Linked DNA regions of Homo sapiens. The protein of the gene in region 1 interacts with the protein of each later gene in a biochemical or structural test. Each region holds a gene or a part of one and is shown in the gene's direction. Other genes may lie near its edges.

Region 1 (3,600 bases):
CTCATATTTATTTAAAATAAGCATACAAATCATAAAAGGTTGATATTTTTGTTTAATTTTAGGTAATAATTTCATTTGCAAATAGTATTTGGACCTTGCATAGTAAACTTTTTCAACTGGTGATAATGTACCTATATTTAGAATCATTTTCCTATACATTTTTAAACCTTTGGTTTTCCCATCTTGTTTAGTGCAAACCCTGAGGTTGTCAGGGAGGGTGCTGGTAGATATTTATACATGTTCATCCTTATTTTGTGTTGAAAAGGATGAGTCATTAGTTAGGCTTTAATTCCTTCAATGCAGTTCTCTAAACTTTCATGAATGTCTGTTAGTATTGTTCAAAGAAAAACTTTAGCCGAATTAAATTGAGCAAAGAACAATTTGTGAATCATGCAGTCTCCCAAGCAAGAGTAGGCTCAGAGACTCCAGCACAGACACGTTGTGGAAGATTTATAGACGGAAAAAGGAAAGTGACATAGAGAAAACGGAAGTGAGGTATAGAAACAGCCAGATTGGTTACAGCTCAGCATCTGCCTCATTTGAACACAGTTTGAACAGTTGGCCACCTTTGATTGGCCAAAACTCGGTGATTGGTGTAAGAGTGGGCTACATTGTGTTTACACCTCCATTTAGGTTACAGTTTATGATGTACAGAGAAACCTTTAGGCTGAACTTAAAATATGTAAGGAGGAAGCTTTAGGCTAAATTTAATAGTGTGATTCTTTCATTCTACTTTTAGTGGCTCTCTTGTTAAAGATTTATACATTCAAAAGCAAAAAAATCCCTCCTAAAATCCAGACCTTTTATTTTTATAGTTGGTCAGGGTTGACAAAGCTAGGTGTTAAATAACATTATAATACTTGATCTTCATGGCAATACTGCCATTCTGGCCTAAATACAGAGCTCTTGATGCCGAATCACCATGTGTCCTCTTGGTCAAAATCAAATAATCAAAAAAAAAAAATCAAGTATTAGATTGTATACTTTCATCTAATATTAGAAATGATTTATACCATATTCTTCATCTCATATGCTAGGATATTTTTAAAATTAGTAATCCAGGAATATTGTGTAAAACTTAGGTGTGAGAATAGGTTGCTTTAATTATGCTGTAATCCATGTGTGTTTAGACAATTACTTCTTTTAGTCATGTTTAAGTTTTGTTTCTCTAGCAATTATGTTAGCTGATAGAAAGATATCATCATGAAAATGGATGTTTATGATGTTTTTGAGGATATGGGTTATATCCTTATTTATATGTGTTTGTATGTTTATGTGTGTGTATATATCTATGTTTTTTCTCTACAGAAATGGAGAAAAAAATTGTTTTAGTTTTATAAGCCTTTTGTATTATACTTTTAATTTAGATGTCTATTTTCAAAATTATATGAGAGCAAAGTTTTAATATGTAAATAGCTGAGAGGATCATTTCTCAACTTTATATAAACTAGTAGAGTCAAATATTTAGCTTGAAATGAAGATATAGGAATGCATCTATTATACTCACTAATAGATTACTTAGAACCTGAGCTTGAAGTGGATCAAGAGGACGTGTCACTTGCTATCATAGAGTCATGGCACCACATTTATGCAGTTCATTTCCGCCATGTTTCTCCATTTGGCTACACTGAGCAACAGCAGAGGCTAAACCATTTATTCTCTCTCAATTTCCTCTCTCTCTCTTTCTCTCTCAATTTCCTCTCTCCATCTTTTACACACACACATATAGCTTCCCCTCTCTTTTCTTGTCTTTTCAGCATTAGTTTTGAAAATATGGTCCACATTCATACTCAATTTGGGAGCCCTTCACAGAAATTGTATATGATGACTCCTGAATGGCAGGCAGATTGATAGTTGATAATTGATAATGAGATCAATGCTATGCCTAAGATATCTCCTGCTCCCAGAATCTCAAAGATTCAGTAGGCTCTTCATGTGTTTCCAACCCTCCATCCTTGGCACAACTTCTTCCATGGTTCTGTGCATGGGAGTAAAACACTTCAAATATGCAGGCAAAGAACTCCTTCCTTGGGAGTGCTAGCAGACCACTGAGACAGAAATGAGATGACTGTCTCCATGCATGAAAACACTTTTTTGCCTTTTGTACCATCTCCCTTTGGTAGTATAATTTGAGACTAGCCATAGCAAAGTCTAGAACTAGCTTATTATTTTGTTTAATATATTCATTTTTTACATAATTGATCAGAAAACAATGAAACCAAACAGACTTTTGTAATGTTTTTCAAAGGACAAGTAACAATGTCACTTAATAGAATAAAATCAAAATTTTGACAATAATTTTTTAAAATCACTTTTTGTTTTAGCCATTCCTAGAAAAGAACTGTTAGGTAACTCTCTAAATACCCTGCCTGATATTAGAATAGAATTAGAAATTTATTAACACAGCAGAAATCGAGATATTTCTGCTGTGTTGGTAATCTCTTCTCCTCTCCCCTCTTTCTCCCTCTATCCTCTCTCTCTCTCAAAATCTCTTTTCCTCTCCCCTCCTTCTCCCTCTCTCTTCTTCTCCCTCTCCCTGTGTGTTTTCCTCTGTATCTATGCATACGTAGATATGTATGTATATATGTATCAGGTATTCTATCTGTTTATTATTCTTTTTTCCTGTACACAAATGGTCTTTGGACTTTAGTAGGTGTGAAGTTAGTATGAATGTTTTTAGTGATACTTAAAATAGCATTAATAGTATATTCCAATCAATTTTATGAAAATTTTGGGGCACCTTTAACATTTGGTACAACATTTTTCTATTCCTTATTGTTTCTTTCCTCAGATATTTTTGTCCCCCATAAACAGATTTTTTTCAAATATAATTTTTCAAATATAATTTTTCAAATATAATTGACTCAAATAAACCCTCAATTTTTAAACTATTTCAAAAATGAACTTTATGGAACCAATCCCCAAGGGCTTTTTGAGAATATGATGTGACTGTGTTGCTGGGGACAAAGGTCTTTCTTCACTGAGGCCTAGTATGATGTGTTTGTGATATTTGGGTTATGGCTACCAAGCCTGTGCAAAAAAACAAGGATTCCAGAATCACTCTCTGGGTGTGAGAGGGATATTGTTGTCACCAGTTGGGATAATTCTAGTCACAGTTATATTCACTTGGATAATTGTGCAAATGGCTTTAAAAATATTGTGAGATGATAATGAGAAAAAAAGTATATTTTTATATGATGGAAATACCTGCATCTGTTAGTCCTTTAAAATTAAGTAATGCATTTGATATAGCAAACACCAGCATTTTGAGTTATCTATTAATTTTTAATTGTGTTTAGTTTTAAGATTATCGGTATGTTATGAAATGTTGACTATATTTTCTCCTTCCTTTGTAGGTAACCCATTAACCCAGGAGAAATCAAGTGATCCTCAAGGCTGATGACATTGAACATGCGCATAGAAACTTAACTCAACTCCTGAGGTGATCTTGAAGATTTTTATACCACTTGAAAGAGGCGCTCAATAGTCTATTTCCAAGGGATTTCATGGCCTCTTCTTGAAATCAAGACTTTTTAAAAGTCAGACATGAACTTGCATGTCATGAAGATTTCAGCAGATTTGAACTGTGTTCAACTTGTA
Region 2 (3,835 bases), on another chromosome or scaffold:
GCCTTGCTCTGTCGTCCAGGCTAGAGTGCGGTGGCATGATCTCGGCTCACTGCAACCTCCACCTCCTGGGCTGAACTGATCTCCTCCCTCAGCCTCTCCAGTAGCTGGGATTACAGACCACAACCACCACGCCCGGCTAACTCTTTTTGCATATTTTCTGTAGAGAGGATGTTTCACCATGTTGGCCAGGCTGGTCTCAAATTCCCAACCTCAGGTGATCCAATAGCCTCTGCCTCCCAACACGCTGGGATAAGAGGCATGAGCCACGGGGCCAAGCCAAATTTTCAAATCAATAATAGATAATGCTGAGTGTATTATTTCAGGTGACAGAGAAGTTCTCACTAATCAGATATTTGTGACATTAATGAAAAACACGGATTGAACCCCTGAAAGATTGGCGGAAGGATTTTGCACACACAGCTGTCAGCCGTGAAGGCACAAAGGTGAAAACAATCTGATGTGGAAGGAAGAGGCTCTGACTCAAATGCTGGGAATGAGGTGGGGAGAATGACAAGATGACTGTAGAGAGACGGAGAGCACACTGGGTACACAGGAAACTAAGGAGCAACAAGGAGCGTGTGTTTGACACTCACAGCCATTGGATTCACCTCGAGGTAACCAGGAATCCCTACATGATTAATATGACTGACATGAAAATAAGGGAGGCTCAGTTGCATAACTGGAATCTAGGAGACCGTGGAAAAGGCAATTGCCGCCCCACTGGTGAAATGTGGTGCTGATTTAGACACTAAATGAATGAAGTAGATGGATATAAGATATGTTTGTGAGGTAGAATCATTGGCTGGAAAGGCTTGCTGGGTTTAATTTTTCCTGGTAGTTTAATCCTCGCTTCACTAACTTATTTCTGAGATTTATTTCTCCTGCATCTAAATCAATACCTGGCAGAGGAGGGAGAGCTAGATGAGGGGTGGTGCAAATGAAGGGACCTAGTATAGCATAATATACAAGGCTGTGAACGGTGGCTCACGCCTGTAACCCAGCACTTCAGGAGGCCAACGCGGGTGGATCACATGAAGTCAGGAGTTCGAGACCAGCCTGGCCAACATGGAGAAACCCTATCTCTACTAAAAATACAAAAATTAAACAGGCATGATGGTGGTGCATGACTGTAATCCCAGCTACTCTGGAGGAGGAAGCAGGAGAATGACTTCAGCCCTGGAGGCAGAGGTTGCAGTGAGTGGAGATCGCATCACTGCACACCAGCCTGGGCTACACAGGGATACTCTGTCTCAAAAAATAAAAATAAAAAATACATAAATATAATAATATACACAAATGATGCAGGCACCTGAATTCCAATCATCATTTTTCTATTCCTCTATAATTACTTCTTTGATCCTTTATCTTATCCATTAGAAAATCAGCCTAAAACCTCTTCCATATTTGGCTTTCTGTGAACATGAGATCATATGGAAAATATGAAAGCCCCCTGAACCCACCAGCACAGGCCCTGAAATAGGGAAAGTGCTCTGTTCATCACAAGAAACTTTCCCCCTCACCCAAATCCCCCACCTCACCCCTACTTCCAATCACCTGTGGAGATACAGATAGATCATGGGGAGGTAAACGCTAATACTCCTTGGAGTGAGTTCAGATCTTGGAATCAGAGATCAGCACCAGCACTAGCTCCTGCTCCCCTTTCCTACTAATTCACAGGAGGACAGGTGGTTTTGAAGCAATAGATGGTGGAGGGGGTGGTCTTTCCCCCAGCCTCTCAGGTGGAACAGCAGCCTAACATGTGTCTCGCGAGATCACAAAGAGTAGCACGTTTCACATGGGCTTCATCATTATTTCCTGGCTGTTTGACATAAGAGAATTCTACTTTGCTTTTTTGATCTTGATTTCACTTTTGTGTCCTTTTCTTGGAGAATGTAATTTGAGTCAAGAGGGTTGTGGATGTAGAAACTGTAAAGCACATTCACTGTGTATCAATCCCAGTCCAGTCTTTCCAGAGAAGACTCTAAACACCTGCTGTACTGCACCTGGGCCTATGCCAATTTCTATCACTCACCGTCACTCCAGGGAGACAGAACACACAGAGAATACGTTACATAGGCAGGTTCATTACTAACAGATAAGCAGCGAGTGACAACAGAAGCCTACATTTCAACGTGAGCCAGTCCCTCAAGGCTCAGAAAAGCTGCTCGGGACATATGGAGTCACCTCATTTGCAGTGTATCTGGGGGAAGCCAGAAAATAGCCCAGCCTGGGTTTTGTACCCTGAAGCCACAGGAAGCACTCAGCTAAAGCACTGCATGACGTCCTCCTCCAGGAAGAACAGGAAGACAGCACAGGCTGTTCTGAGACGTTCCTCCTGATCTCAGGACGTTGCTGTCTTAGTCCATTTTTGTTGCTATAAAAGAACACTTGAGCCTGGGTTACTTCTTTTTTTTTTTTTTTTTTTTTTGTATAGTGCTTCTGATGAGCTTTTTTTTAAAATTTTTATTATTATTATACTTTAAGTTTTAGGGTACATGTGCACAATGTGCAGGTTAGTTACATATGTATACATGTGCCATGCTGGTGTGCTGCACCCATCAACTCGTCATTTAGCATTAGGTATATCTCCTAATGCTATCCCTCCCCCCTCCCCCCACCCCACAACAGTCCCCAGAGTGTGATGTTCCCCTTCCTGTGTCCATGTGTTCTCATTGTTCAATTCCCACCTATAAGTGAGAACATGCGGTGTTTGGATTTTTGTCCTTGTGATAGTCTACTGAGAATGATGATTTCCAATTTCATCCATGTCCCTGCAAAGGACATGAACTCATCATTTTTTATGGCTGCATAGTATTCCATGGTGTATATGTGCCACATTTTCTTCATCCAGTCTATCATTGTTGGACATTTGGGTTGGTTCCAAGTCTTTGCTATTGTGAATAGTGCCACAATAAACATACGTGTCCATGTGTCTTTATAGCAGCATGATTTATAGTCCTTTGGGTTTATACCCAGTAATGGGATGGCTGGGTCAAATGGTATTTCAAGCTCTAGATCCCTGAGGAATCGCCACACTGACTTCCACAATGGTTGAACTAGTTTACAGTCCCACCAACAGTGTAAAAGTGTTCCTATTTCTCCACATCCTCTCCAGCACCTGTTGTTTCCCGACTTTTTAATGATCGCCATTCTAACTGGTGTGAGATGGTATCTCATTGTGGTTTTGATTTGCATTTCTCTGATGGCCAGTCATGGTGAGCATTTTTTCATGTGTTTTTTGGCTGCATAAATGTCTTCTTTTGAGAAGTGTCTGTTCATGTCCTTTGCCCACTTTTTGATAGGATTGTTTGTTTTTTTCTTGTAAATTTGTTTGAGTTCATTGTAGATTCTGGATATTAGCCCTTTGTCAGATGAGTAGGTTGCGAAAATTTTCTCCCATTTTGTAGGTTGTCTGTTCACTCTGATGGTAGTTTCTTTTGCTGTGCAGAAGCTCTTTAGTTTAATTAGATCCCGTTTGTCAATTTTGGCTTTTGTTGCCGTTGCTTTTGGTGTTTTAGACATGAAGTCCTTGTCCATGCCTATGTCCTGAATGGTAATGCCTAGGTTTTCTTCTAGGGTTTTTATGGTTTTAGGTCTAACGTTTAAGTCTTTAATCCATCTCAAATTAATTTTTGTATAAGGTGTAAGGAAGGGATCCAGTTTCAGCTTTCTACCTATGGCTAGCCAGTTTTCCCAGCACCATTTATTAAATAGGGAATCCTTTCCCCATTGCTTGTTTTTCTCAGGTTTGTCAAAGATCACATAGTTGTAGATATGTGGCATTATTTCTGAGGGCTCTATTCTGTTCCATTGATCTATATCTCTGTTTTGGTAC

The links.
Region 2: the proteins of TAFA2 (region 1) and KIR3DL2 form a complex in vitro, tested with the Homo sapiens proteins (one study listed by BioGRID).

What each region holds. Positions count from the first base shown.
Region 1 is NC_000012.12:61,710,174-61,713,773, reverse strand, and holds part of TAFA2 (chemokine-like protein TAFA-2 precursor), read left to right. Parts: intron 1-3,356; coding exon 3,357-3,368; 3' UTR 3,369-3,600. UniProt on the Homo sapiens protein: Has a role as neurotrophic factor involved in neuronal survival and neurobiological functions.
Region 2 is NC_000019.10:54,860,397-54,864,231, forward strand, and holds part of KIR3DL2 (killer cell immunoglobulin-like receptor 3DL2 isoform 1 precursor), read left to right. Parts: intron 1-3,835. UniProt on the Homo sapiens protein: Receptor on natural killer (NK) cells and T cells for MHC class I molecules. Upon binding of peptide-free HLA-F open conformer, negatively regulates NK and T cell effector functions. Acts as a receptor on astrocytes for HLA-F.